4 linked regions of the Homo sapiens genome follow. The protein of the gene in region 1 interacts with the protein of each later gene in a biochemical or structural test. Each region holds a gene or a part of one and is shown in the gene's direction. Other genes may lie near its edges. The genes, in order: SNX9, LRRK1, ASAP1 and DNM2.

Region 1 (7,024 bases):
AAAATATTCTGTTGTATAAAAAAAGAGAGAGAGTGCCTGTGTGCACATGCTGCCCTGTACCTAGCCACATGACTTCCAAAACCTGCTAATGCCTGATTTCCATTACGTGCTACTCCTCAAATGGCAGCGGCTTCTGAATATTACAGAGATGGTGTGCTGTTTGCTTTTCTCTTTTGTTGTAGCATAAAACTGTTCATTTTAGCTTAGTGACATTTGTCAAGAATAGCAACCTTTTTGCTTCCAAGGGACTTGAAGGAAGTTAAATTTAGATGCTTTCCTCTCTTCTTATTTTGTGGAGGTATTTCCTGTTCAGTAGCAAATCAGTTATAGAATATATTAGCATTGTTATATTTTAAACTAATGACTAATCATTTCAGCTTTATTCATACTGTTGCATTTTATATTTCACAGGGAGCAATAGAAAAAGTGAAAGAAAGTGACAAACTAGTTGCAACAAGTAAAATCACCCTACAAGACAAACAGAACATGGTGAAGAGAGTCAGCATCATGTCTTACGCGTTGCAAGGTAAGATGAAAGGGTCCTTATGAGGTGCTGGTGGAAGTTTTTTTTTCCCCAGCAAAGTTTCCCTTGATAGAGAGAAATCCAGATGTGAGCAGCAGTTAAGTAAGTGAGACCTTTTAAGCCCCTCGTTTGCAGGATCCCGGTGCTGATGAAAATCTGTAATATTTATTTAATTTTTCACCTGTCCACCTTATCTGGCTATAGATGACAGCTTGATTAAAACTGTACATTTTATTATTTCTGAGAGACATTTAAGATTCCTTTTGTAATCTGTGGTATCATAATGCTCTATTAAATGCCAGAGCCCAGCTTTTAGCAGTCTGTAACCTGCGTGCCTTGGGATCATGGAATGTGAAGGGGTTTGGGTGTGTCATTTTAGGCACAATTTTTTTGTGTCAAGAAAAAAAAAAGATGAATTTCTATAGGTTTGAGTGTTTTTGAGCAGATGAGGGCAGCAAGTGGATTTTTCCTGTTGGCGGATGGGTGGATGGCACTTGGATGGGCAGAGAATGGAGAGCGTGTTCTGTTAGGAACAAAAGCCACAAAATTGTGGTGCTAGATTGTGTCATGGGCATGAAAGAGTAAAACATACTTAGAGGTTATTGGGAAATAAATTTTGATTGTGAAGGAACTTGAAAGCTCTAGACTTGATGCAGGCATTAAGAAGCCATTAAAAGGGAGTAAAAAAAAATCAATCCTCAAGGGAGAAGGATTTGCTGGTTATGGAGGGGAGATTGGAAGATGCAGACACTGTCCAAGAGCCCAGCCAGAAGACCATCTCACTGTTGTAGTCTGAGCTTTGAGGGCCTAAAGATGTGGTACTGGGGAGAAGAGAATGAAGCACATTTGCAGGCTTTTCCAAGGAACAGCTTTCAAGACTGGGGCATTCATGGGAGAAAGAGAAGGATGAGGGAGGTGTCCAGAGCCAGGCCACTACGGCAAAAACGAGGAACCCTGATTGAAGTTTCGGGTTTTGAAGGGTTTGAAATGGGGAGTTTGGTTTTGAACTTGTGTTTGAGGTTATCCAAATTGAGAAATACAAAGCTTTGTATAACTTCAAGTAACTGAATGTAAAATGTAGAACAGTTTGCATGTCATGGGAATCTGTGCAGCCGCTGGCTTTCTCAGCCTGGAGGGTTTGGGAGAAGGCGGCATAGGAGGCATCCGAGGGAGGCAATGAGGTCCTCTGATGACGAAGACTCCTCTAGAGTTGGGGGCAGGGGCAGGGGGGACAGAGAAAGAAGGAATCCATGTATTCAGCAAACATGAAGAAAGTTGTCCCTCAGCATCCAGTCCTCCTGCCCTGTGAGAGGTTGAGTTCTGACAGCGTCGCTGGTGCTCAGGGGCAGCAAGGCTTCCCGTACTGAAGAAGGGTCTCCCGCTGTCCCACACGCTGCCCAGCCTTTCACCAGAAACCTGCTGAAGCAATTGCTGTGCAGGAGGGAGCGGGGCAGGGACCCCAGCTGCCTGCTAGGTCCAGTGCAGACACACCAGAGGCTTTGAACTGCAGTCATCTGTAACAAATATGACCAAGTATTTTCTATTTGATCGATTCTGTTAGAGTAATAGGCTGCATTTGGGTGATTTATCTGTATTGGATTTTATAGTTTTGAATATGCAAGACAGTGAAAGTCATTCATTTACTGGAAAGTAATGTTTGTCATTAGCTTGTTTTGTTTTGTTTGTTTTGTTTGAGACAGTCTCGCTCTGTCACCCAGGCTGGAGTACAGTGGTGCAATCCCGGCTCACTGCAACCTCCATCTCCTGAGTTCAAGCAATTCTCCTGCCTCGGCCTCCCAAGTAGCTGGGATTACAGGCACCTGTTGCCATGCCCGGCTAATTTTTGTATTCTTAGTAGAGATGGGGTTTTGCCATGCTGGCCAGGCTGGTCTTGAACTCCTGACCTCAGGTGATCCACCCACCTCACCTCCCAGAGTGCTGGGATTACAGGTGTGAGCCACTGCGCCCAGCTCAACTTGTTTTTCTAACCTCTTAGTAAAGTGATTTACCAAGAACTGACAACAGCAGCCAACCAGATTAGGTCAGGTTGATGATTAATTGTAACTGAGCAGAGAAACCAGGTGTTGTCATTTGAAAACTTGAGGGAAAACTGATTGATGTTCTGATTTGGGTTGTAGCTGAGATGAATCACTTTCACAGTAACCGGATCTATGATTACAACAGTGTCATCCGCCTGTACCTGGAGCAGCAAGTGCAATTTTACGAAACGGTGAGTGGGCGTCCACGTGCCTTTCGCATGTGCTTGAGGAGAGGGTTCCTGGTAAACCACTTTGACCATGTAAAGTTAATCTGTTTGTATTCTTTAATCCTAAGTAATAAACCAAAGGAGCCTAAATTTTGGACAGGATTTTTTTAATCTCCTAATTCCATCTGCCCTTTGCTTTTTGGATAACACTGGGTTAAAAAAGATTTTCTTCTGAAGCAGGGGTCTTGGATGCTAGTTGCAAGGCCCCAAGAAGTTCCTTATTGTGCAGCTCCTTCCCCCCGTCACAGCCTCTCTGTGCCTCTGTGCACCAGGAACGGTGCTGAATGAGATGAGGTCACCCAGCCGTCCCTGGGACTCCGTTGGCAGCTGGAACAGGAGCCTGGCACCACACAGGAAACCAAAGGCAGCCTTTGCTTTTTGTGAATGAGGTTTTCACAGTGCGCCATGGAAATCGCAGAGAGAAAACCAAAAAAGCGAGATGTGGGATGGTTTTATTCACAAAACAATAACGAAAACTTAAATTTTTCTTACCTCTGCTTAGTAATTTTGTTGTTTACCAGAGTCTATAGAAAACAAAAATCTAGTAGCATGTCTCCCTCAGACACCTGCAGGTAAGGTCTGTAATGTAGAATCCAGCCTCCGCTGGCGGCCTTGCTGCCTACCCAGCTCCCCTCTGGCCATGGGATCTAAGCCATGTTCATGGGGAGTGGTGAGCAAGCCCTCTGCTCAGCCATACTGGTGGCATCTGCGAGCTGGACACTGCTGAAAACGCCTGTCTCCAGCAGCCAGTTCTTAAAGGAGAACTGTGCTTGATGTACCTAATGCATATTTGTGAATTGTGTCTTGGACAGTTGGTTTGGGAGACTAACTTACGGGAGGAACTCACCTAAGCCCTGTCCTCCCTTACAGGACGTGGGCCCTATGCTCTTTAAATGCACACTTTTCCCGTCAGTTGGTGCCATTGTGGATTTGCCTTTCATTGTATATTAGAATATAACAGATTACATTTGTCTGTGTGAGAAAATAATGCAAGGGCAACTCTCAAAATTTTGATAGTGTTGATTTATTGATTTTCAAGTCCAGGTATGGTATAGTGACATTGTAATTCAGAATAGAAAACCATGTATTTCATCACTGTCTTTGCATAAACCTAAGTAGCTGATATAACATTGTTAGGTTTTAGATCTAAGTTTTATGGCAAAGTAACCCTTAAGTTACTAAAATTTGTGTATGTGTTCATGGAGCAGACATATATTGAGTGTTTCTTATATACCAAGCCCTCGTGCTGGATGTTTAGCATCCAGGGATGGATAAGACAGCTGTGCCTTCAAGGAGCAAGAGGCCCTGGCGCAGAGACCACTGCAGCGCCTCGTTAGCTTCACAGGCAGGCTCGTGCTGTCTGCACACTCAGCAGTGACAGCAGGGTGTGGCCAGGGCGACACAACCTTCAGGGGATTCTGGAAGCTCATACTCCTCCAGGAAAGAGGGGGCTCTAGGCAAACATGAAGGCCTGAGCCCCCAGCTCATCTGAGGAAAAGCAGGTGGTCTGGAAGCGCCGCTAGGGCAGAGGTGGGGAGCATGTGTAGACGCCTCCCGGCGGGAAGGGACCACCAGGGCCAGCTCGGGCCCCAGCGCTGCCGGTGTCATTCGGGGTTAAGGTCTGTCCAGCAGCAACGCGGGGCAGGGCTGGTGCCAAAAAGACCAGTTAAAGAATTGGAATTTGTGTCATGTTTAACTTGTTGGAGTTGTGAATAAAGAACACTGTGAGGTCGTAATGGGAGTGATATCTCAACGTTGTTTTGTTTTGCTTTCTTGTCAGATTGCAGAAAAGCTGAGGCAGGCCCTCAGCCGCTTTCCAGTGATGTAGGACAGAACGGGCCTTGAAGAGAATGCCGCGTGCTTTCTCCTGACTTGGGGCAATGCAATTCAAAACTTTTTTTCCCCTATTATTCAGAAAAAAAAGGAAACAAAACCAAAAAGAAAGAGTTGCAAAAAACTGCATTTATTTTATTAGCCACCCTAAATGCGTCAGTTATTTAGGGATGGTCTTTTGTTCATTTCCGCATCCATTATTTAAACCAGTGGAAATTGTCTCTATTTTTGGAAAGTACTTAAAAGTTACCAGAATTTTCAATGGAAAATGAGGGGTTTCTCCCCACTGATATTTTACATAGAGTCATAATTTATATGTCTTATAAATTATAAGTCTTATATAATTTATAAGTCTCCCACAATCTTCCAGTTCTTACCCAGTGTCAGATAATTAATTACTAATTACTTTCTTAAAAACATGAACTATGCCAGAATAAAAAATATCTATGTTTGTATATTTTTATAACTCCTTTCAGTCCTCTGGGGCTCCTGTCATTGAGGGAAGTCGTTACGCCTTTCACTGCCACAGTTACAGCTCAAGTGCTTACACTTCAAGAGGGAGGACGCTGGGGGCCCCTGGGGCTGCTAGTGCCATCGTGGTGTGTGGCAGGTGGGCCATCCCATGTCCCTCCAGGGGGACCCCACAGCCTGGCAGATGAGCAGATACCCCTGGCCACCCATGTCCTCAGCGACATTTCTGATGTGCTGCTCTTATGTGAGGACCAGTGCTTTCTCTCTTTGCACTTCCTTCCTAATCTTGGTTAAGGCATGTTTTATGCCATGAAGAATACATTAGAAGAATTGAGGGACTTTGTAGAGAATTTTGTGGCTTTGGTCCAACGGGTGAGTGGCTGTGCGGAGGCCTGTGTTCGGGAGGGCCTGGGAGAAGGAGGGCACCCAGCACCCCGGCGTCTCTGGCCCTTTCTTATTCTTTGGCTCCTCATCCACCGTGATGAGAAGCGCTGCTGTGGCCACGGCACACTGCTTGGCTTGGGTGGCGGGTTCATGGCCAGTTGGTGTCATCAGCAAAGAGAAAAAGCACAGGTTAGCTCCCCATTAGATGGAAAAGTGTAGGGACTGAGAAGGGCTGCAGCCTCAGCAGTGTACAGAGTCCCCGGCGCTCTGAGGTTGGAGAGAAAGAACAGACCAGCGCCCTTCCCGACTACATCCGAAACTTCACACAGGGTGTTTCTGAGCACCAGCACTTCCAGCGCTTCACTTAACGGCATAAAGCAAAACAGGACCTTGGCACACCGTCAGCTCGAACTCAACACTGGCAGCCACCGTCTCACCCCTGCGGAGGAGCGCTCCCGTCTCCCACAGGTGCCTTACCGCGTTCCCTCCCGCTGCTTTCATTTTTCTGACCTAATAATTACGGGAAATGGAAAGTCTGGGCCAGCATCAATAAAATGACACCAAAAATAAGTAGATGAAATCAAATGAATATGAGAACATCTTGTTCTTCAATATCACGGGTTTTTGTTAATGTTTCATAAGTAATTCTCCCCACTTGATTTTTCTTCTATAAAATCCCATAGAACAATGTTTATGCTATAGCCATTTAATATATGTACAAATTGTAAAGAATATGTATAAATGTTTTACACGAATGTAAGAGCATGTAGAAGCCAACATATAAATAAATTGTTTAAAAAAACTGTACAGTAAATTCTCAAAGCACTTTTTCAAAACACTTTTTGGACTTTGTGTGTGATTTTTGTTGTTGTTGTTAAGTACTTTTTATTCCAGCTGCTGAAAATGGTCCAGGTAATGAATTCTTCCCCAAATCCTATTTCTTCTGACATGAATTCATCATTTCAGTTCCGTAGGTCAGTGTTGCGGTCCGGGAAGCGTATCATAACCACCTGGGAGTTGCCAAGAAGCAGACAGTCTCCCAGTGTCTGACTCTCGGATATTTGGATTTGACTGGTGTGAGGCAAAGTGAAAAAGGGATGGGGGAAATGGAGATGGCACGGGCTCCTCAGAGCGTGGTAGCCGACTGTGAGGAAAAGCAGAGGGAATGTGAAAGAAAATAAGAGAATCCACGGGATTTGATGCCTGGAAGATTCTCCTTCAAGTGGCAACATGGCATATATATCCTTCTCCGGGGAGTCACATGCACCATTTGGTTCTTAGATACGTTGATGTTTTGATTTTTAATGATTTGTATCAACCTGTAGGTACCACAGAAGAGCTGTAGTCATACAATCACATAACTTTTACAAATATAGTGGAAAAAAAGTCAGTATTTGGAGAGGAGAGATGAAGGCGTGGTGGAAGAAAAGGTCAGTCTCGTTGTCAAGCAAGTGACGTCAGTTGCCTCCCACCAGGAGCAGCAGTCCCGGGATGTCAACCCACTGCATGGTTTGTAGGTGTTGGGGTCACCAAGAAAGATGACTCAC
Region 2 (7,367 bases), on another chromosome or scaffold:
CTGTTGGCCATTTCTGTGTTTCCCTTTAAACCAGATCCTGGAGACAGTGAGATACTCAGGGCGTTGTTAACAGGGAGTGGTATTTGAAGTGTCCAGCAGTTGCTTGAAATGCTTTGCCGAATCTGACTCCAGTAAGAATGTGGGAAAACCCCCTGTGTGTTCTGCAAGCAGGGCTCTTGCACCAGCGGTCTCCTCAGGGTGGACCTGCTTACAGAGCAAGCCACGCCTCTTTCCGAGGTGAAGGTGGGACCATTCCTTGGGAAAGGATTCACAGTAAGGTTTTTTGGTTTTTGTTTTTTGTTTTCTTGTTTTTAAAAAAAGGATTTCACAGTGAGAAAGTTTTGGTTAGTGCATACCGTGGAAGGGCGCCAGGGTCTTTGTGGATTGCATGTTGACATTGACCGTGAGATTCGGCTTCAAACCAATACTGCCTTTGGAATATGACAGAATCAATAGCCCAGAGAGCTTAGTCAAAGACGATATCACGGTCTACCTTAACCAAGGCACTTTCTTAAGCAGAAAATATTGTTGAGGTTACCTTTGCTGCTAAAGATCCAATCTTCTAACGCCACAACAGCATAGCAAATCCTAGGATAATTCACCTCCTCATTTGACAAATCAGAGCTGTAATTCGCTTTAACAAATTACGCATTTCTATCACGTTCACTAACAGCTTATGATAAGTCTGTGTAGTCTTCCTTTTCTCCAGTTCTGTTACCCAATTTAGATTAGTAAAGCGTACACAACTGGAAAGACTGCTGTAATAACACAGCCTTGTTATTTTTAAGTCCTATTTTGATATTAATTTCTGATTAGTTAGTAAATAACACCTGGATTCTATGGAGGACCTCGGTCTTCATCCAAGTGGCCTGAGTATTTCACTGGCAGGTTGTGAATTTTTCTTTTCCTCTTTGGGGATCCAAATGATGATGTGCAATTTCATGTTTTAACTTGGGAAACTGAAAGTGTTCCCATATAGCTTCAAAAACAAAAACAAATGTGTTATCCGACGGATACTTTTATGGTTACTAACTAGTACTTTCCTAATTGGGAAAGTAGTGCTTAAGTTTGCAAATTAAGTTGGGGAGGGCAATAATAAAATGAGGGCCCGTAACAGAACCAGTGTGTGTATAACGAAAACCATGTATAAAATGGGCCTATCACCCTTGTCAGAGATATAAATTACCACATTTGCCTTCCCTTCATCAGCTAACACTTATCACTTATACTACCAATAACTTGTTAAATCAGGATTTGGCTTCATACACTGAATTTTCAGTATTTTATCTCAAGTAGATATAGACACTAACCTTGATAGTGATACGTTAGAGGGTTCCTATTCTTCCATTGTACGATAATGTCTTTAATATGAAATGCTACATTATTTATAATTGGTAGAGTTATTGTATCTTTTTATAGTTGTAAGTACACAGAGGTGGTATATTTAAACTTCTGTAATATACTGTATTTAGAAATGGAAATATATATAGTGTTAGGTTTCACTTCTTTTAAGGTTTACCCCTGTGGTGTGGTTTAAAAATCTATAGGCCTGGGAATTCCGATCCTAGCTGCAGATCGCATCCCACAATGCGAGAATGATAAAATAAAATTGGATATTTGAGAAACATTGTGCTTTTTCATTTAAAGACCAAAGTCATTTGAATTCGATGGCAGGCCTTTCTCTTTCTGAGACCTGTACGAAATGGCTGATATTAAAGCAGGATCAATAATGTAAGCATAAAATTACATTTGCTCAGTCAGTCGGGCCCAGTGCTTTGCCTGAGTGTGAAACCCATTTCTGTGGGCTTGGGGGTTGACCAGGCAAGGAGCTGGGCCTCAGAGGTTCCATGTCATAGCTGGCTGAGTTTCAGCTGTTATCTAAGCTGCCTGAGTCTCCTTTTATCATAAAGTAGTGATGGTGTCAGTGTGCGAAATGGTGGGGAGGACTGCATGAGGATTGACGGACAGCATTGTGCCCCTGACGGTGAGCACAAGTGTCTGTTTTTGTCACCTTTTCCTCTAGAGAAATCTAGAGGATCTAGAGAAAGGATCAATTTGGGTTTTACTGACCTCAAGTTTCTAAAGCTTCTAACCAAGAAGCCTCAATCACCCCGTTGTGAGCTGACGCTGCCATTGGCTCAAGATCATTGCTGGTACTGGGGTATGTCCTCCAAGCTCATCCCTTGCATTTGATGTGGAAAGCCCAGATCATTTTGACATGGGTGGCAAAGCACCACCACTTTAACAAAAAAGGGAGGCTGGGATCAGATCTCTCGTAACATATGCACTTATGTTAAGAGAATTTAGACACATTATTTAGAGACATCCCATTTCTCAATCCAAATGTGAGCAGGAAACTGTAGGAGAAGGATATTTTCCCTCATTTGGTGTCCCGGAACATGACTCCCTGAAGGGAGCCATTCTGGGGACAATTGGAGGGTGTGGTATGCGTGTGCACACATGCATTTGTGTGCCTGGTGTGCGTGTGGGGGTTGGCACCTCTCTAGAAGTGGACCCTTTGGGATGTCCTAGCTTCTCCTGCTGGTGGATGAAGCCTTTCTAATGGCTTTGCTCCTTGCTCCTAGGCATGAGCTTGAAGGGGGATAATGAAGGGCGTTTAGGAAGTTGCTCAAGGAAGACTGTCTGAGGAAACTGCGTACTGGGCTGAAGAAAGACAACCGGAAAACACTGAAGGAGCGCTCAGCCACTGCACCTTCAAAAAGGCAGAAAAGTCAGTTCAGGGAGGTGCCTCCCAGCTACCCCACCCACCTCAGGAGGGGTCATTCCAACCTAGGGTGCTGAGAATCTGGGTGGGATTACCAGCAAAAGCTAGAGAACCATGGGTCAGCGACCCTTAGGAAGAAGTGGAAAGGAGTCTTAACTTACCTGCAATAACCTTCCTATGCGAAGTTGTGGCTAACGCATGCCTAATGGCTAGAATTAAATGCTGGGAATATAACGAGCTCAGCACAGGTTATCCGCGTGTCAGATGTTCCTGCTGTCTTCTACAGTGGGGACATTTCCTAGCCTATTCCCAGGCTCCTTTAGAAGGGAAGTGGAGGTGCCCCATCTTCACCTGCCGCGTCCCCTCCAGCGTCTGCCCGGGCCCTGGGCCTGCGCTCCCTCGCGGTGGCGCCAGGTGGCGGGGCTGCGCGCCCTGGAGGAGCTGCACCGCCGTCGCGGGGCTCTCTCAGCACTGAGGACACCACGCCCTGCAAATTGTTGGGAACTTGTCGGTGGCAATCACACTGCTGGCTCCTGCAAACTGGTGTGAGGCCCTCAGGGGTGAGAACAGGATTGCAGAACTGCGCTCACCCTTTTGGAAAGTCGTCCAGTGGCAGAAGTAGCCTCCCAGGAGCAGAGCGAAGCTGCTCGGTGGTCCCCTCTCCAACCAGGGACCCAAGAAGCCGCTCAAGGGAACACGGCCCCGCGGCGTCCGGGAGGTCCTGCAGGAGCCCTGCGGCTGCCCCGGTTCTGTGAAATGGCAGTGAGGGTGGGGGAGATGTGCGCTAAATCCTGGGAACGTGCGAGTCATAACTTTCCAGGAGAGGGGCCCAGGGCGCTGGTCCTGCAGGGCGTGGAACCCTCTGCTCTTCCTGAGCAGGCTTTGTCCCCGGGTCGACACGGGGAGCTCAGCGTGAGGCCCGCCTGCAGCGTGGACGCAGATCTTTTTTATGGTCTGCGTTTCTGTATTAGCCTCAGCAGCCTGGTGACGCCTTTATAAAAGGTCGAAACACGATAAATTGCCAATATTCCACGTTTTATGTATTCCCCCCAAAGCCGACAATTAACAATGACTCACCGAGCAGCAGATTCTTTGCACACATCCATAATTGAATCAGTAAAATCCATGTGTTGGAGGATATGCAAATTGCAGGTCGTTAACGCTTTAGAACGACACATTTCTGTATCGCCCCGTGAAGAGCTCTACGCACATGAATGTTCCCCGTCTGTTTAACTGTTACGGCCGCAGTGTGTGGGCCGCAGGCGCGCTGGGGGCTCATCTGCTGATTTTGCTGCCCCTGGAGCAGAGGGATAGCGAAAGCGGGGCTGAGCGCAGCACGGACCGATCCCATCGCCGCGCTCGCCCCGCGTGGAGGCAGCCGGGTGCCCGAACCTGAAGGAGGACCCGGTGCCGGAAGGGCCCGCGGACCCCGGCGTCTCCCGGGGCATCGAGCGCCATCGCCCGCGTTTTACGGCCAGGGAAACTGAGGCGGCCGCCGAGGGGACGCCTCGCGACGGTTCCTGGGAGAGCTGGCGGCGGCCTTGCTCTGCGCGCTCTTCGCGCCGCCCTCCCCGCCCGCCCGCCTCAGGATTGAGGAAGTGCGTCTGGGCCCGGCCCCGGCGCGGGGGGCAGACGGCGGTGGGACGGCCAGGCCCCGGCCCCGCCAGTGTGTCCGCCCGGCCCCGCGTCCCGGAGCGCCCGCACCCGGCCCCGCCGCCGCCTCAGGTAAGCGCCGCTCCTGCCGGCGCCCCCCGGCGGCCTGGCTGCCTCCCGGCCCCGCCCGGGGAACCCAGAGCCCGCGCCCGGCGCCCGCGGGGAGCCTCGGCCTCTGCCTGCCCGCGGGCCCCTGCGCTCCGGGCGGCCGCGTGGTCGGGCACGGGGGGCCGTTGCGCAGGGGCCGCGGCCCGAGGGGCGCGGAGGGCGTGTGGGGCGACCCCGGTCTCACGTCCCCGCTGCCTCCCGCCGCGCCCGGAGCCCAGCCAGCCTGTGGGAGGGGAGCGCGCGGGGCCCGAGCAGGGAACCCCGAAACCCCGTCCGGGCAGGGTCGGGAAAGCTGGGAAGCGGAGGCAAGAGACACGAGTCGGGAGACACGAGCCGGGGAGCCCATAGGTTTCCTCTGCCTTTGGAGCGAACCCAGTCCCTTAGCGGGGAGCGGGCGGAGTGTGAGCGCGCGGGTGAGCCCGTGCCGGGGTGTCGGCAAGAGACCGCCCGGGAGCCTCTCGCTGGTCCGGGGCTTCCTGGGGTTGCGGGGCGGCCCAGCGAGGCTTCACCCTCCTCGATGTCTGGGTCACGCTTCTTGCCCAGGTGGTCTCTGGCTGGCGCAGATACAACTGCTCTGTCTACCATGGTCTCTGCAAGCTACAGGGGACCTTCCTGGCAGGCAGGGACGCGGGAAGGAAGCCTAGGAAGGCCGGGGTCAGCGAGGAGACGCTGGTGGAGAATCTGAGAACCCCCGTGGCCATCTCAACCTACCCCTTCACAGTATGAGGCCGCGAAGTTTTTCTCCCACGAACACTTCCCCTGCAACAGGTAGAGAAACGGGGGCATATAGCTTTCAGCAAACCTCTCACCGTGTACACTAATGATAGAGTTTGCCAGCCACTCACAGGGTATCAAAATGCCCAGACATTAAAGGGATAGCTAGAACATGCACAATTTTGGAAAATGTTAACATTAAACGCCTTTTATGATTTGATTCTCTTCATCTTTGCCTATGTCCTGAAAGAGAAAATAATATAACAAACTAACCTCACACCTAATTTGTTCCTAAAGGAGGTTTTGCGGTCAGCCAAACCTTTCCCTCTCCCAAAAGTCGATGTCTCTGGCAGTGACCTCGCAGTCAACTCGGATCCTCAGATAAAAAACATTCAGTCTGTTGAATCTATGTCTAAAATGTGTCCTGATCTGTCCCCTTTTTCTTATGCCCCCACCCCCCACCCTGCCCCTTGTCCAGGGTACCAGCATCTCTTTACTGTAGGATTTCAGTTCCCCCTTCCTCCATTCTCTATATAGCAGCGTGCGTCTGTGTGTGTCTGTGTGTTTAAATGGGTAAATCAGACCATATCAGTCCTCTTTATGGAGTCCTTCAGTAGCTTCTCCTTGCAACTGGCACGCAATCCAGGAGACCTCCTTCTCCTCACACCCCCAGCTGATCCAGCCTCTGCTGTCTCGGACCACCAGGCCATTGCCCCAGGCCACACTGGCTGAGCTTGCTGTCCAGCACTGGTCCCCTGCACTGCTGCCTCCTGACTCTTCACACAGCCTCAGAAAGTCTTCCCTGGTCACCCTCTGAAAACCCACGCTCCCTCTCACATCCCTCACTCTGCAGCCTCCCTGCAGTCCCCATTCTGTACTCCTTCTTTATCTGTTTAATTTCTCCTTAATTATCTTGTGGTCTCCACTGGAGCTCTTGGGGTCAGAGACTGATCTGTCTTGCTTATTGCTGTGCCCTCATTCCCATAACTGTACAGGGAGATACCCCGTGCATGGTGGTAGAGTGACTGGATGGGGAATGGACAACCCTAACTTACCTGTGGTTTCAGACTCATGGAGCATTTCTCTCCTCCACCCTTTTTGGGCTCATCTGGGATTGAGAACAACATATTTCTCTGGCCTGCAGCTCCAAGATATTTGGATGCCCCCAAACCCATTAAACACATTTTATAGGCAAAAGCCAATGCTAGTAAGGGATGCAAATAGCACTCAAGAGATTTCTAGAATCATGGGCTAACCATTTTGACCAGGATTTTGTTTCAAAAAGGAACTAGGTGATATGAATGAGCATGTCTAGCATGCTTTGCTTGCAAGGGACTTCTAACTTCTAACTGATATCGACAGTCCTTCCCAAGCCTCCTAAAATATCTGGGCTTCTCTGCTGTCAGAAGCTTTATAGCAATTACTTAGCTGTCTGCTCCCCCACCAGCTTCACAAACTCATGAAGTTCCCTCTTCATAGAAAGAACTCAATAAGACATTTGTAGAATGAATGACAGGTTCTTCTCTTTTCTTTTCTCTAGAGTCTTGCTCTGTCACCCAGGTTGGAGTGCAGTGGTGCAATCTTGGCTCACTGCAACCTCCACCTCCCCCAGTTTAAGTGATTCTCATGCCTCGGCCTCCCAAGTAGCTGGGATTACAGGCGCCCACCAGCATGCCCAGCTAATTTTTGTAATTTTAGTAGAGATGGGTTTTTACCATATTGGCCAGGGTGATCTCGAACTCCTGACCTCAAGTGATCCACTCTCCTCGGCCTCCCAAAGAGCTGGGATTACAAGCGTGAACCACCGCACCCATCTATTTTCTTTTCCATTAAATGTTTAGGTTTATTCATTAATGCAGGTATAAATAGTTGGCAAAAGGAAATTGATGAGGTTTTGAAAAATCATTTAAACCATCATTACTGCTGAAAACCTCTTGATGCCCTCTTTAGGGTGTATAATGAAGACATGTAACTTGTAATCATCACTTGTTGGCACCTCTCTGGACCCAAAAGAAGCAGGAGGAAGCAAAGATCCGTTTGAGGGCAAAGATTGAGCAAAATTTGAATTACCTCATCTTAAAACTTCTACCTTAGAATATAAGCCAAAATAGTAACTAGAATTTTAAAACTGCTCCAGGGGCAGAGTCTTCCACTGGTAAAGTGATTT
Region 3 (7,024 bases), on another chromosome or scaffold:
AGGACTGTACGAAAAGAATATATCACTGCAAAGTATGTAGATCATAGGTTTTCAAGGAAGACCTGTTCAACTTCATCAGCTAAACTAAATGAATTGCTTGAGGCCATCAAATCCAGGGATTTACTTGCACTAATTCAAGTCTATGCAGAAGGGGTAGAGCTAATGGAACCACTGCTGGAACCTGGGCAGGTAAGGCCTCACTAAAATCATTGGATAAAAAGTAATGTGGAAAATCAGTTTAAAAGGTGACTTATTTTAACATTATACCATATAATGAGATTCTTATACATTGGGTGGCCATGTCTAAATCAAGAGAATATGAGAGTGAAGAGGTGTGCTCCTTATAATTACTTGGGGGCAACTGATATATATGAAGCCTCCCTTGGCAGAGCATATTATTGACTTACTTATACTTTTCTTTCCCTTTTTAGGAGCTTGGGGAGACAGCCCTTCACCTTGCCGTCCGAACTGCAGATCAGACATCTCTCCATTTGGTTGACTTCCTTGTACAAAACTGGTATCGTTTTTGTTTTCTCTGTTGAATTACCTGAATATGCCTTATAAATTAACACAAACCAGTCCTATCAGTGGCCTAGATCGGGAATTGGCAAGCTTTTTCTGTGTCATGCTAGATATAAAAATTATTTTTGGCTTTGCAGGCATGAAGTCTCTCTGTCAGAGCTATTCACTTCTGCCATGGTAGTGTGAAAGCAGCCACTGACAATGTGTAAACAAGCAAGTGTGGCTGTATTCCAATGAAACTTTATTATTTTGTTTATAAAAACAGACAGTGAACCAGATATGGCCTACAGGCTGTAGTTTGCCATCTCTTGGCCTTTATAAATGTAAAATTATGTCTGTATCCAAAAATCTGCTGCACAGATTGGACACATTTGCTAACCGTTAGGAGAGGTTAAAAGAGAGAAGACTTAACAGCACAGGTCAACCATATTTGTGAGTTTTCATTGTTCCTAAATTTAATATAAGACAGCAGCAGTGTGTGTGGCTGGATCAATAGCTCATTCAAGTTTGGGATATACTGATGGAAGTATAAGAGTGAATATAGGAAGTTTGGACTTGCTGGATTCTTTATTCTCTTTATCTGTTCTGTAAGCAACAGATGATGAGGAGGAACTAGAGCTCATCTAAAGAAGAAGATCAAAATAGTGAGGGGATTTGAACCCATAGAGGAAAAATGGTACATAGACACAAGCCAAATTGTATAAAAGTCCAGGTTTCTTCCTCAGAGACAATATAGCATAGTGGCTCAAAACATTGGCTCCAGAGATAGATTACCTGTGTTCAAATATCCCTGCTTCACCATCCCTATCTTGAAAATCTTGAAAGCAAGCACTTCAGCCTCTCTGCGCTTCAGGGTTTTTTATCTGTAAAAGCGGTTATTATTAGTATTTACCCCATCATATAGTTGTAAAGATTCAATGAACTAATACATGTAAATGTTAAGAAACAGTGTCTGTCCCATAGGACCTGGCACTCTAAATAAATACTGCCTGTTATCACTGTATTGCTTATAAATCTAGGTTAGAAACATCATAATTTTCTCTATTATAATAATTAGGTCTCAAATTTGACTCAGTTGTCAGCACAAAAATAAGTGGCTAATCTATAGTTTTAAGTTATAAAGTAAGTCATTTTTTTCTAATCATCATCTAATTTTTCAGTGGGAACCTGGATAAGCAGACGGCCCTGGGAAACACAGTTCTACACTACTGTAGTATGTACAGTAAACCTGAGTGTTTGAAGCTTTTGCTCAGGAGCAAGCCCACTGTGGATATAGGTAAGAGTGTGTCTAGTGTCTTCATGACTGTAGTAAGCGTGTGTTGCATGGTACATTGTAATTTGATTATTGTTCCTTGCCTTCTTAAGGTGTTTCCTAGATAATTATGCAAATTAATTTTTTTCCTATTTCAGTTAACCAGGCTGGAGAAACTGCCCTAGACATAGCAAAGAGACTAAAAGCTACCCAGTGTGAAGATCTGGTAAGCAAAAATGGACGTGGGAGATTTATTAGACATTGGCTGCCTTAAAAGTGTCATTCTGAGAAGCTAGAATTGAATATTAAAAATGCAGATTCATTTTTTTTTAACACTTGCTAAAGAAAATCAGATGAGCAATGTGCTACATTAGAAAAAGTGGTAAAATGATAAATTTGTCATCCACATGTTTTTGGAATGCAGTTAAAGGAGGTGAAAGGCATTACACAAGTATTATTACCAGATCGACTTGTGCATTGAGGTCATGCTTTTTATTTCCCAGACCATTAGACTTTCTCTGCAGCTTAATAGTAAAGAATTATTTGAGAAGCTGCTCCAAAAATTGGGCAAGTAAAGCTCAGAGAGTAGTGGTCTTCAAAATGTTAACACACTGTTCTCCCAGCCCCTCCCCTTCCTGTGCACATTCACCTTTTTTGACCCTACTAGTTCTTGCTTAGCAAGTCAGGGCCTTCACATTAGTGTGATTCTCTTGAGTTTCTGCTAAGTGCCAGGTTCCAGGCCCACCAGTTGGGCCTTTTTATTCTTAAAAGAATCCTTTGAGACAATTATCCCTGCTCCCATTTTATGAATGAGAAAATGGGGCCACAGATTGGACTGGGACCTTAAAAGCCTACGTCTTAAACTTCAAAGACTCGTTTTGCCTTTCAGCCAGGAATTTGCAAGTTTGAGGCCCATTTAATAAGAAGAAAGCTTTTAATTTTGGAGACAAGTCATCAAAATAAAGAAGGCTCTGCCTGCAATTGTTTGCATTTCTTCTTGAGCCTGTCACATAGCAGTGCAGCTTGTCTAAGCAGAGTGTTGCCTATAGTACACCTACAGATGATTCATTGAAAACTAGGAATAAGGTGGGATTTGCTCAGTGTTTGTATAATATTGGGATGTTTCAGCATTTAAATTAAAATGGTGCACATTTGCTGTTCCTTCCAGCTTTCCCAGGCTAAATCTGGAAAGTTCAATCCACACGTCCACGTAGAATATGAGTGGAATCTTCGACAGGAGGAGATAGATGAGAGCGATGATGATCTGGATGACAAAGTGAGTGTAAATTATGTCCTCGAATTCTCAACAACTACCCCAACTTTTCTAGTCTGTGTAGACAAGATCCATTTTTGGTGAGATTGATTGATTGTGGTTTTATGATCCAATGTATCAGGGCCATTTATGTTGTTCAGTCCTTATTGGGCACCATTTAACAGCTATATTAAGGTTGTCCAGAGAAACAGAGCCAACAGGATAGGGAGAGAGACAGAGAAATTTTTTTTAAGGAATTGGCTCACATGATTGAAGGAGCTGTCAAGTTCAAAATGCACAGGGCAGGCCAGCAGGCTGGAAATCCCAGCAGGAGTTAATGTTGCAGTCTTCAGGCTAAAGACAGTCTGGAGGCAGCATTCCTTACCCTTTGGGGGACCTCAGTCTTTTTAAGGCCTTTCTTTGGCTGATTAGGTGAGGCACACCCACATCATGAAGGGTAGTTCCCTTGACTCGAAATCTACTCATTTAAATGGTAATTGCATCTAAAAAATTCCTTTACAGCAACATCTAGACTAGTATTTGACCAAACACCAGGACACTGTAGCCTGTTGACACATAAAATTAACCATGAAGCTAGGCATGGTGGCTCATGCCTATAATCCCAGCGCTTTGGGAGGCCAAGGCAGAACTATCGCTTGAGACCAGGAATTCGAGAGCAACCTAAGCAAAATGGTGAGACCCTGTCTCTACAAAGTAAATGGATCAATCAATAAAACGTGGTGGTGCTATTTGACAAGCTGAGGCAGGAGGATTGCTTGAGCCCAGGAGTTTGAGGCTGCAGTGAGCTATGATTGTACTACTGCACTCTTGACCTGAATGACAGAGCAAGACCCTATATCTTAAAAAAAAAAAAAAAAAAAATTAACCTTCAAAACAAGTAATTAGTAAGTAAATAACAGTTGTTATTTATTGAACATAATCATGCACTGTATAATAACATTTCAGTCCACAACACACTGCATACTCAATGGGGATCAATATAAGATTAAAACGGAGCTGAAAAATAGCCATCACCTAGTGATGCCATAGATGTCATAATACGGTAGTGCAACACATTCCTCAAATGGTTGTGGGATGCTGGTATAAACCAACCTACTGCACTGAGTTGTATAAAAATGTACAGTAATGTCCTAGGCCTTCACTCACACCCAGAGCAGCTTCCAGTCCTTCCAGCTCCATTTATGGAAAGTGTCCTACATAGATGTACCATTTTTTAATCTTATATAACATGTTTTTATTTTACCTCTTCTATGTTTAGATACACAAGTAATTACCATTGTGTTACAGTTGTTTACAATGTTTAGTATAGTAGCATGCTGTACAGGTTTGTAGCCTGGGAGCAATAGGCTATACCATATAGCCTAGGTGTGTAGTAGGCTCTCCCATCTAGGTTTGTGTAAGTATACTCTATGATGTTCGCACAAGAACGAAATCACCTAACACATTTCTCAGAATGTATGCCTGTCATTAAGGAATGATGTTCATTAAATATGGATTAGACAGATTTAAGCACTTACGTTATCTCAGATCATCTTTATTGAAAGTCCATAACTGAGTGCTGTGGCTCACACCTGTAATCCCAGCACTTTGGGAGGGTGAGACGGGTGGATGCCTTGAGCCCAGAAGCTTGAGACCAGCCTGGGCAACATGGCGAAACCCTCTCTCTACAAAAAATACAAAAATTAGCTGGCCGTGGTGGTGTGCGCCTGTGGTCCCAGCTGCCCGGGAGGCAGAGGTGGGAGAATCACCTGAGCCCAGGAACTCAAGGCTGTGATGAGCCAAGATTGTCCCATTGCACTCCAGCCTGGGTGTGGGTGTCTGAGTGAGACCCTGTCTCAGAGGAAAAAAAAAAAAAAGTACATAAGGGACATTGTTATCCCCATTTTACAGAAGAGAAAACTTACAAAGAGAATTTAGCAACTTGTCTAAAGTCTCCCAGCTAGTAAAGACAGTTTGGAGGATTAAACCCAGTTCTCACTGAGTTTTCCTTATAAGCAGTTAACTACCTCTGAAAGTTCATTCATGCATTAATTGATTGCCTATGTATTGGACATTTCCTGTATCACAGGCAGGATGTAAGGAATGGCCAAAGAGGTCCTCAAGCCTTAACAACTTTAAGAGGAAATAAATTATAATACAATGTGATAATCATTATAAGAGTATGGAAAAATTCCTGAGAGCTATTCAGAGGACCAAGCAGCTGCCTCAGTCTGCCTTCTCAAGGACATTGGAGATGGGTTTCTAAGGATAGGTGGAAGCTTGCCAGGGAAAGAAGTGGGGTGGAATGCATCATTCCAGAACACCACGTGCCAAGGGAAGGAGTCATGGTAGAGTCTGGATGTCGGAGGAATGGAGAGAAGCACTGTGTGTGAGATGCATTCACCTGGCTGGGTGGGGAGAGGCAGGCAGCTGCCTTGTAGAGTCAGGCAAACCAGATCAGGATGGCTTTGTGGGCAAGGTTTGGCCTTTGGGTTTTTGTGCAAGCAGTCAGAAGCCCACAGAGGTTTATTGTCTAAAGAGCAAGGTTTCCCACCAGCTCTGGCTGCAGTGTGGAGAATGGACTGGAGGAAGGAAACTGGAGAAGGGGCCATTCTGGAGGCTAGAGCTGCAGTGGGAGCTGGTGAGCACCTGTACTAGGAGGGGCTTCAAGGGATATTTCCAAGGGGAATGCAGGAACCAGGGACTCCAGGTGACACTGAGGTTTCTAACCTGGGCAGTTGAGTGGATCCTAATGCCATCACCACAAGCGCAAATACCAGAGATACCTCATGGGCCATTGGTTTGGAACACAAGTCACTGGGGTTGTATTTACAGATCTGTAAGTAATTATTGTGTAGCGGGCAGTGGGTGTGAATCCGTTTACTTTGCAGGGGGATATAAAATGAGAAAAGAGGCAAAGAAAGAACTTCAACGTTAAAGGGTTGAGCAGGGAACAAAACTTAATGTAGCAAATTAGAAATAGGTGGAAATACTATTCAAATGTTGCTGAAAAAGTCCTGCATTCTGAAGGTGTTTGCTTATTAAAAGTTAAATCTACCTGTGACCTTACTGTGCTTCTGACACTGCTGCTGATCCTAACCAGTGTTTCACTAGTGTGATTATTCATAGTGGTGAACGATATGAAAGTGTGGTATCTAGATCCTTCCCTTGTACTGTGTCAGCATCATGAGGCTCATTGTGGCTGACCTCATAAAGCTCAGAGAGCCACAGGAACCCAGATTCCCACCTGAGCCCGCCCTGCGGAGGCCCTCTGTACACATGAAGGGTGGTCCTTGATTATTATCTCACCTTCTTATTTCATCTGCCAGCCAAGCCCTATCAAGAAAGAGCGCTCACCCAGACCTCAGAGCTTCTGCCACTCCTCCAGCATCTCCCCCCAGGACAAGCTGGCACTGCCAGGATTCAGCACTCCAAGGGACAAACAGCGGCTCTCCTATGGAGCCTTCACCAACCAGATCTTCGTTTCCACAAGCACAGACTCGCCCACATCACCAACCACGGAGGCTCCCCCTCTGCCTCCTAGGAACGCCGGGAAAGGTATGGGCTTTGAGAAGGGCTTGTGACTCCATCCTCGAAGGGCTTGTGACTCCATCCTCAGAGCTGATAGTCTAGCCAGCTTTGAGGTAAGAATTGCAAGGTACATTTGAGTGGCGCGGATCGTGTTGTCAGGAGCAGCTTGAAATAGGGACCATGCCATTTGCCAGGTACCAAGAGCAGGACAGGCAGTGCTGTGGGCTCTCTTTGTGCATTATTTGTGTTAACCTTACAACAATCCTGTGAAGTATGTGCTTTTGTGCCCATTTTACAGAAGAGGAAACTAAGGCTCAATGAGATACACTGACCAGCCCAAGGTCACACCACTGGTAAGAGGTAAAGTTGAGATTCAATCTGAGGTCCACGTGGCTCCAGAACCTGTACTTTTTATAATGTGGAGTGGAGTTTCAGTTCTCTGGAAAGTTACTTTTCTCTACATTAAA
Region 4 (7,024 bases), on another chromosome or scaffold:
TAGCAGTCTGGACAGCCGTGGCTGGCACTTGGTGCTTCCTGAACAGGGCCAACCTTAGAAAGCAAGTGATAGGGCAGGTGCGGTGGTGCACACCTGTAATCCCAGCACTCTGGGAGGCTCGCTTGAACCCAGGAGTTTAAGACCAGCCTGGGCAACATAGCGAGACCCCATCTCTATTAAAATAATGATAATGATAATAATAAAGAAAGGGAGTAAGGCTTCTGCAGCACCTGGCCCAGGACCTATCCAGCCCCAAGATGTCCTAAAGCGGCCAAGGTTGAAATCCCAGCCCTGCTCCTCTCTGCCTCAGTCTTCCCCTCTGTAAAATGGCATCACAGAGGTAACTCACTCCTAGGCTCGTTTCAAAGATGGAGCCCAGATAAAAGTTCCATTCACTTCGTGCAAGGCGAGGGGCAGTTGTGTTGTGCGTGCCGTCAGCCACATGTCAGCAGTGAACTCAACAGGAGTCCCTGCCCTGGAGAAACTTGAGTCAGTCCAGTGGCAGTCAGCCACCTAGGTCAATAAGCACAGGCAGTCAGGCACCTAGGTCAACAAGCGCAGGATACGTGACGTGTTGTGTGAGGGAAAAGGAGGATGGAGGTGGGGAGGGTGCGGGTAGAGTTAGGGCAGGAGGGAGCCATGCAAGTGTCAGGATCAGGCAGTAGCCCGGTCGTCCGAAGGCCCTGGGGTAGGAACCCAGGTGGGATACTCAGGGAGCATCATGGAGGGCAGCGTGGCTGGGACAGAGTGACGGACGGGGAAGGGCCGGCAGATGGGCTCATATACAGCAGCGACCAGCATTGAGAAGCCCCCGGGGCTGGTGGTGGCGCATGCTACACGCTCTGGCCTGGGGCATCCTGAGTTGTCACGTGGACCGCTCAGGGTGACTCTTTTCCCTCCACCCTCAGGAGAAAGAGAAGAAGTACATGCTGCCTCTGGACAACCTCAAGATCCGTGATGTGGAGAAGGGCTTCATGTCCAACAAGCACGTCTTCGCCATCTTCAACACGGAGCAGAGGTGAGGGGCCCAGGGGCCTGGGGATGGCTCGGGGTGAAGACCAATGGCCTCATTCACACTCCACAACCTTCACTGAGCACTGAGCACCTGGCTGTCAGCAGTCCCTGCCCTTGGGACCCAGCTTTTAGAAAGGGGAGTCACGTGAGAAATAGCAAATGCCAGGGATGCTTCCCGTGCTGGGTCAGAGATGACCTCTCTGGGCAGAGATGAGGATGAAGGCAGGCTCCGAGTCAGTGGGAGCCATGGAGAGTTCTGAGCACAGGGTGACCAGGACCTGGCTCAGGTGCTTGCAGGAGCCCTCTGGTGGCTGAGAGGGAAACAGTATGAGAGGGTGAGAGATGGGGGACGAGGGCAAAGGCCGCTGCCTTGTCCAAGTGGGCGATGATGGGGCCAGAACCCATAGGGAAGGAGGGTGCAGATTCTGGGTAGAAGAGTCAGGCGGAGCCCTGGTGGGCATGGATATGAGAGAGAAAGGCACCAATTGTGACCCTGAGTACGTGGGCCTGAGCTCCTGCACTGCCCAGCTGCTGCCATTGGCCGAGGTGGGGAAGGCAGCGGCAGGTAGGCCTGGAGACAGCCAAGAGCTCCATTTAGGCCATGCCAAGGGAGAGGGTGCATCAGGGAGGCACCTGGGTAGATCGAGGAGTGTGATGTCCAGGAACGAGCTCCAGTCTGGGATGTGAACTGGGCAGTCACCATTGCGTGGATGGTATTTCAAGGAACGAAACCAGATGAGCTCCCAGGAGAGTGAAGCTGGAGAATGGGAGGCCCCAGGAAGCTCACAGTACATCTGTCCCATGAGGCGTAGCTGGAGACTTTAGCAGAGACACTGCTCTCAGGAAGAAACCCAGCTGGCAGGAGGGCTCTTCCCATGCTCACACAATCACGCTCATCCAGGAAGCAGGGCCCACCTGAGTCAGGGATTAGCTGTCAGTAAAGGCCCGGTGGTACCCTGAGACCTGTAGGCAGGCACTGACGTCCTCCCTGCTGGCCCCAGAACCTCCTTGCCTACTGCTTGGCTACACCCACCAACTCCAGCTGAGTCTCCTGGTTCCCTCCTGCTTTGCTCTGGCTGGCCTAAAGCTCGAGACCCATTTGTCCACCAGCTGGCCGTGAAAACCTTCATAGCTCTTCTAGGCTTGCCCCTGGCCATATGACACCTGGCAGCTGTCCCAGGTCCCTGAGCCGTGTGCCTCCTGTACAGGGAGGGTGACAATATTATCTGATATATCTTTTAAGAGCAGGTTCAGGAAACCCAGAGTAGTAGCTGCAAAAACAAGATAAGATGGTTGATAGTTTTTTGTGTAAATTAAGTCCAGACTTTAGTATCCCGGGCAAAGTGGAGCAGCTCCACAGGCATCAGGGTCCAGGCCCTGCATGTTCCTCAGGATTCCACCTGATATGCAGAAGCCGAGCTCTGCGGTGGGACAGGCCTGCCATGAAATCCTGACTTTTTTTTTAAACGGAGTTCCGCTGTTGTTGCCCAGGCTAGAGTGCAATGGTGCGATCTCAGCTCACCGCAACCTCTGCCTCCTGGGTTCAAGCGATTCTCCTGCCTCAGCCTCCCAAGTAGCTGGAATTACAGGCATGCACCACCACGCCTGGCTAATTTTTTATTTTTAGTAGAGACGGGGTTTCTCCATATTGGTCAGGCTGGGCTCGAACTCCCAACCTCAGGTGATCCACCCACCTCGGCCTCCCAAAGTGCTGGGATTACAGGTGTGAGCTACTGCACCTGGCCCAAAACCCCGACTTCTACTTCTTTGTCCAAAATGGCTGCCCAGACTCCAGCCATTGTGATGATGTCCCAGGCAGCAGCAGGAAGGAGAGGAGGAGCTACAAGGGCATGCCTCTCCCCACACAACCTCATCCAGAGGTCGTTCGGGGCAGCCACTTGCTGACCACAAACCCAACTCTCACTTAAAGGCTTTGTGGGCAGCTTGGCTGTCTTAACCACACCTGGATGTGGGACAGGAAAATGTGCGTGGCATGTGGCACGGGGCCTGGCCTGTAGACCACCATCTGCAAGCACTGTTTAGCATCCATTCCATTTATCTCCCAGCTTTGAGACCCTGGTTCTTTTTTCTTTTTCTTTTTCTTTTTTTTTTTTTTTTGAGATGGAGTCTTCCTCTGTCACCCACCCAGGCTGGAGTGCAGTGGCATGATCTCAGCTCATTGTAGCCTCCACCTCCCATGCTCAAGTGATCCTCCCGCCTCGGCCTCCCGAGTAGCTGGGACTACAGGCGCACACCACCATGCCCAGCTAATTTTTGTATTTTCTGTAGAGATGGGGGTGTTGCTGTGTTGCTCAGGCTGGTCTCCAACTCCTGAGCTCAAGCAATCCCCCTGTCTCAGCCTCCCAAAGTGCAGGAATTACAGGTATGAGCCACCATGCCTAAACTTTACAAAAATTTTTTTGTTTTGTTTTGATACATAGTCTCACTCTGTCGCCCAGGCTGGAGACAGTGGCACAATCTTGGCTCACTGCAACTTCCACCTCCCAGGTTTAAGCGATTCTCCTGCCTCAGCCTCCCGAGTAGCTGGGATTACAGGCATGCAGTACCACTCCCAGCTAATTTTTTGTATTTTAGTATTGACGGGGTTTCACCATGTTGGCCAGGCTGGTCTCAAACTCCTGACCTCAGTTGATCCTCCTGCCTCAGCTTCCCAAAGTGTTGGGATTACAGGCGTGAGCCACTGTGCCCAGCCAAAACTTTTTTTATAAAAAACACACAGGCCGGGCACGGGGGCTCACGCCTGTAATCCCAGCACTTTGGGAGGCCGAGGCAGGTAGGTCACGAGGTCAGAAGATCGAGATCATCCTGGCGAACACGGTGAAACCCCGTCTCTACTAAAAATGCAAAAAATTAGCTGGGGTGGTGGCAGGTGCCTGTAGTCCCAGCTACTCGGGAGGCTGAGGCAGGAGAATGGTGTGAACCCGGGAGGCGGAGCTTGCAGTGAGCCAAGATCGCGCCACTGCACTCCAGCCTGGGCGACAGAGCAAGACTCTGTCTCAAAAACAAAACAAAACACATTCGGGCACAGTGGCTCACACCTGTAATCTCAGAACTTTGGGAAGCCGAGGTGGGCGGATCAGCTGAGGTCAGGAGTTCGAGACCAGCCTGACCAACATGGAGAAACCCCATCTCTACTAAAAATACTAAAATTAGCCAGGTGTGGTGGCGCATGCCTGTAATCCCAGCTACTCGGGAGGCTGAGGCAGGAGAATCGCTTGAACCCGAAAGGTGGAGGTTGCGGTGAGCCGAGATTGCGCCATTGCACTCCAGCCTGGACAACAAAAGCGAAACTCCGTCTCAAAAAAAAAAAATAAATAATAATAATAATAATAAAGTTCTGGTGGACAGTGCTGCTCTGGGCTTTCCTGAAAATGCCCCAGTGGGAGCTTCCCAGCCACAGTTGGTGTCGAGGGTCACATGCCCACCTCTGGGGGCCCAGGAAAAGAGAAGAGTCAGCTGATCCAACAGAAACAAAGAAACTCAGACACTTGCCGAGCTTGTGCACAGCGCTCTTCTGTGTAGGCGTCACTCACGGTGACCCCTCAGCATGACCAGGTGAAGCCTGGGTTGGGTTTGGGTTCCTGATCAGTCAGAAAGACCCCTAGAGCCCATTCCTCTCGGCAGTCTGCCAGACCCATGGCAGGGTCAAGCTTGTGCCCCTCCTTCCCCACCCCCCCGCAGAAACGTCTACAAGGACCTGCGGCAGATCGAGCTGGCCTGTGACTCCCAGGAAGACGTGGACAGCTGGAAGGCCTCGTTCCTCCGAGCTGGCGTCTACCCCGAGAAGGACCAGGTGAGGAGCCGTCCTGCGCAGCCAGGCCCAGAGCCCCCACCTGGGAGAGGAAGCAGGGCTGGCTTTCCCCAGGACAGGTCATTTTCAGGCCATGTTAGCCAGGAGTCTCTGAAATCATGTAGCAGATGCCCACTTGAGCAAGCAAAGGAGAAATTGGGGGTACTTTGTCATCAGGGCCCAGAAAGTTCCCTCACGGAAGCCAGTGACCGGGGCACACAGGGGATGGGGTCCCACTTGCTTTGTTCTCTTCTCTTTTCCCCTTCCATCCTGAGGTAGAGTGAACATGGCCACCCTTGGCCCCAATATTAAAATGCCTTGCCGGGCACGGTGGGTGGTTCGCCCCTGTAATCCCAGCACTTTGGGAGGCTGAGGTGGGCAGATCATTTGAGCTCAGGGGTTCGAAACCAGCCTGGCCAACATGGTGAAACCCCGTCTCTACTAAAACTACAAAAATTAGCCAGGCATGGTGGTACGTGCCTGTAATCCCAGTTACTCAGGAGGCTTAGGCAGGAGATCGCTTAAACCCGGGAGGTAGAGGTTGCAGTGAGCTGAGATCACGCCATTGCACTCCAGCCTGGGCGACAGAGCAAGACTCCATCTCAAAAATAAAATAAAATGTCCCAAGGTTGGGTGTGGTGGCTTACACCTGCAATCCCAACACTTTGGGAGGCAATGTGGGCAGATCCTTTGGGCCCAGGAGTTCGAAAACAGCCTGGGCAATGTTGCAAAACCCTTCTCTCCAAAAAATACAAACATACCCAGGCATGGTGGCGCACCCCTGTAATCCCATCTACTCCAGGGCGCTGAGGTGGGAGGATCACTTGAGCTCTCCCTGGGAGGTTGAGGCTGCGGTGAACTGTGTTTGTGCCACTGCACTGCAGCCTGGGTGACATAGCAAGACTGTGTCAAAAAAAAACAAAACAAAAAAACAACGTTCCAATGCCCAGGTGAGGGGATCCACCCCAGCATCAGCCAGGGTCACCCCATTGTTTGGGCAGCTCTGGCCCAGGGCAAGCAGGCCTATCTGGTGCCAGTGGGGCTGTCAGGGGCCAGCCTGAGGTCAGTTATTGGTGGGACAATAGGGCAGATGGTTTCCAGAGAACCAGGACTTGGCCCAGGCCACAGTCACCCCTCAGCACCTCCCCTCCCGCTTGCAGGCAGAAAACGAGGATGGGGCCCAGGAGAACACCTTCTCCATGGACCCCCAACTGGAGCGGCAGGTGGAGACCATTCGCAACCTGGTGGACTCATACGTGGCCATCATCAACAAGTCCATCCGCGACCTCATGCCAAAGACCATCATGCACCTCATGATCAACAATGTGAGTGGAGAACTAAAAATGAGAAGGAGGTAGCTGGGTGCGGTGGCTCACGCCTGTAATCCCAGCACTTTGGGAGGCCAAGGCGGGCGGATCACTTGAGGTCAGGAGTTCAAGACCAGCCTGGCCAAAACGGTGAAACCCCATCTCTACTAAAAATACAAAAATTAGGCTGGGCGCGGTGGCTCACACCTGTAATCCCAGCACTTTGCGAGGCCAAGGCGGGCGGATCACGAGCTAAGGAGTTCGAGACTAGACTGACCAACATGGTGAAACCCCATCTCTACTAAATATACAAAAATTAGCCGGGCACGGTAGCTCACGCCTGTAATCCCAGCTACTCAGGAGGCTGAGGCAGGGGAATCGCTTGAACCCAAGAGGCAGAGGTTGTGGTAAGCCTAGAGTGCACCACTGCACTCCAGCCTGGGCGACAGAGTGAGACTCCGTCTCAAGAAAAGAGAGAGAGAGAGAGAGAAAAATACAAAAAGTAGCCGGGCATGGTGGCGGGTGCCTGTAATCCAGCTACCCGGGAAGCTGAGGCAGGACAATTACTTGAACCTGGGAGATGGAGATGGCAGTGAGCCAAGATCGTGCCACTGCACTCCAGCCTGGTTGACAGAGCGAGACTCCATCTCAAAAAAAAAAAAAAAAAAAAATGAGAAGGAGGCCAGGCACCCTAGGCCATACCTGTTTGTAGTCTTAGCACTTTGGGAGGCTGAGGCAGGAGGATCACTTGAGCCCAGGAGGTTGAGGCTGCAGTGAGCTATGATCATGCCACTGCACTCCAGCCTGGGCGACAGAGCAAGACCTTGTGTCCAACAACAGCAACAACAAATTTGAATGAATCACCACCCTTTGAACACCAGAATCTGCACGG

The links.
Region 2: the proteins of SNX9 (region 1) and LRRK1 form a complex in vitro, tested with the Homo sapiens proteins (2 studies listed by BioGRID and IntAct, with this or other methods).
Region 3: the proteins of SNX9 (region 1) and ASAP1 form a complex in vitro, tested with the Homo sapiens proteins (one study listed by IntAct).
Region 4: the proteins of SNX9 (region 1) and DNM2 form a complex in vitro, tested with the Homo sapiens proteins (2 studies listed by BioGRID and IntAct, with this or other methods).

The regions. Positions count from the first base shown.
Region 1 is NC_000006.12:157,938,222-157,945,245, forward strand, and holds the end of SNX9 (sorting nexin-9), read left to right. Parts: intron 1-411; coding exon 412-526; intron 527-2,661; coding exon 2,662-2,753; intron 2,754-4,569; coding exon 4,570-4,617; 3' UTR 4,618-6,856; downstream 6,857-7,024. UniProt on the Homo sapiens protein: Involved in endocytosis and intracellular vesicle trafficking, both during interphase and at the end of mitosis. Required for efficient progress through mitosis and cytokinesis. Required for normal formation of the cleavage furrow at the end of mitosis.
Region 2 is NC_000015.10:100,915,002-100,922,368, forward strand, and holds the start of LRRK1 (leucine-rich repeat serine/threonine-protein kinase 1), read left to right. Parts: upstream 1-4,355; 5' UTR 4,356-4,450; intron 4,451-7,367.
Region 3 is NC_000008.11:130,111,654-130,118,677, reverse strand, and holds part of ASAP1 (arf-GAP with SH3 domain, ANK repeat and PH domain-containing protein 1), read left to right. Parts: intron 1-2; coding exon 3-189; intron 190-431; coding exon 432-517; intron 518-1,682; coding exon 1,683-1,798; intron 1,799-1,932; coding exon 1,933-2,000; intron 2,001-2,663; coding exon of another isoform or gene 2,664-2,846; exon of another isoform or gene 2,847-2,864; intron 2,865-2,942; coding exon 2,943-3,050; intron 3,051-6,355; coding exon 6,356-6,584; intron 6,585-7,024. UniProt on the Homo sapiens protein: Possesses phosphatidylinositol 4,5-bisphosphate-dependent GTPase-activating protein activity for ARF1 (ADP ribosylation factor 1) and ARF5 and a lesser activity towards ARF6.
Region 4 is NC_000019.10:10,819,072-10,826,095, forward strand, and holds part of DNM2 (dynamin-2), read left to right. Parts: intron 1-908; coding exon 909-1,018; intron 1,019-4,716; coding exon 4,717-4,828; intron 4,829-5,985; coding exon 5,986-6,150; intron 6,151-7,024. UniProt on the Homo sapiens protein: Catalyzes the hydrolysis of GTP and utilizes this energy to mediate vesicle scission at plasma membrane during endocytosis and filament remodeling at many actin structures during organization of the actin cytoskeleton.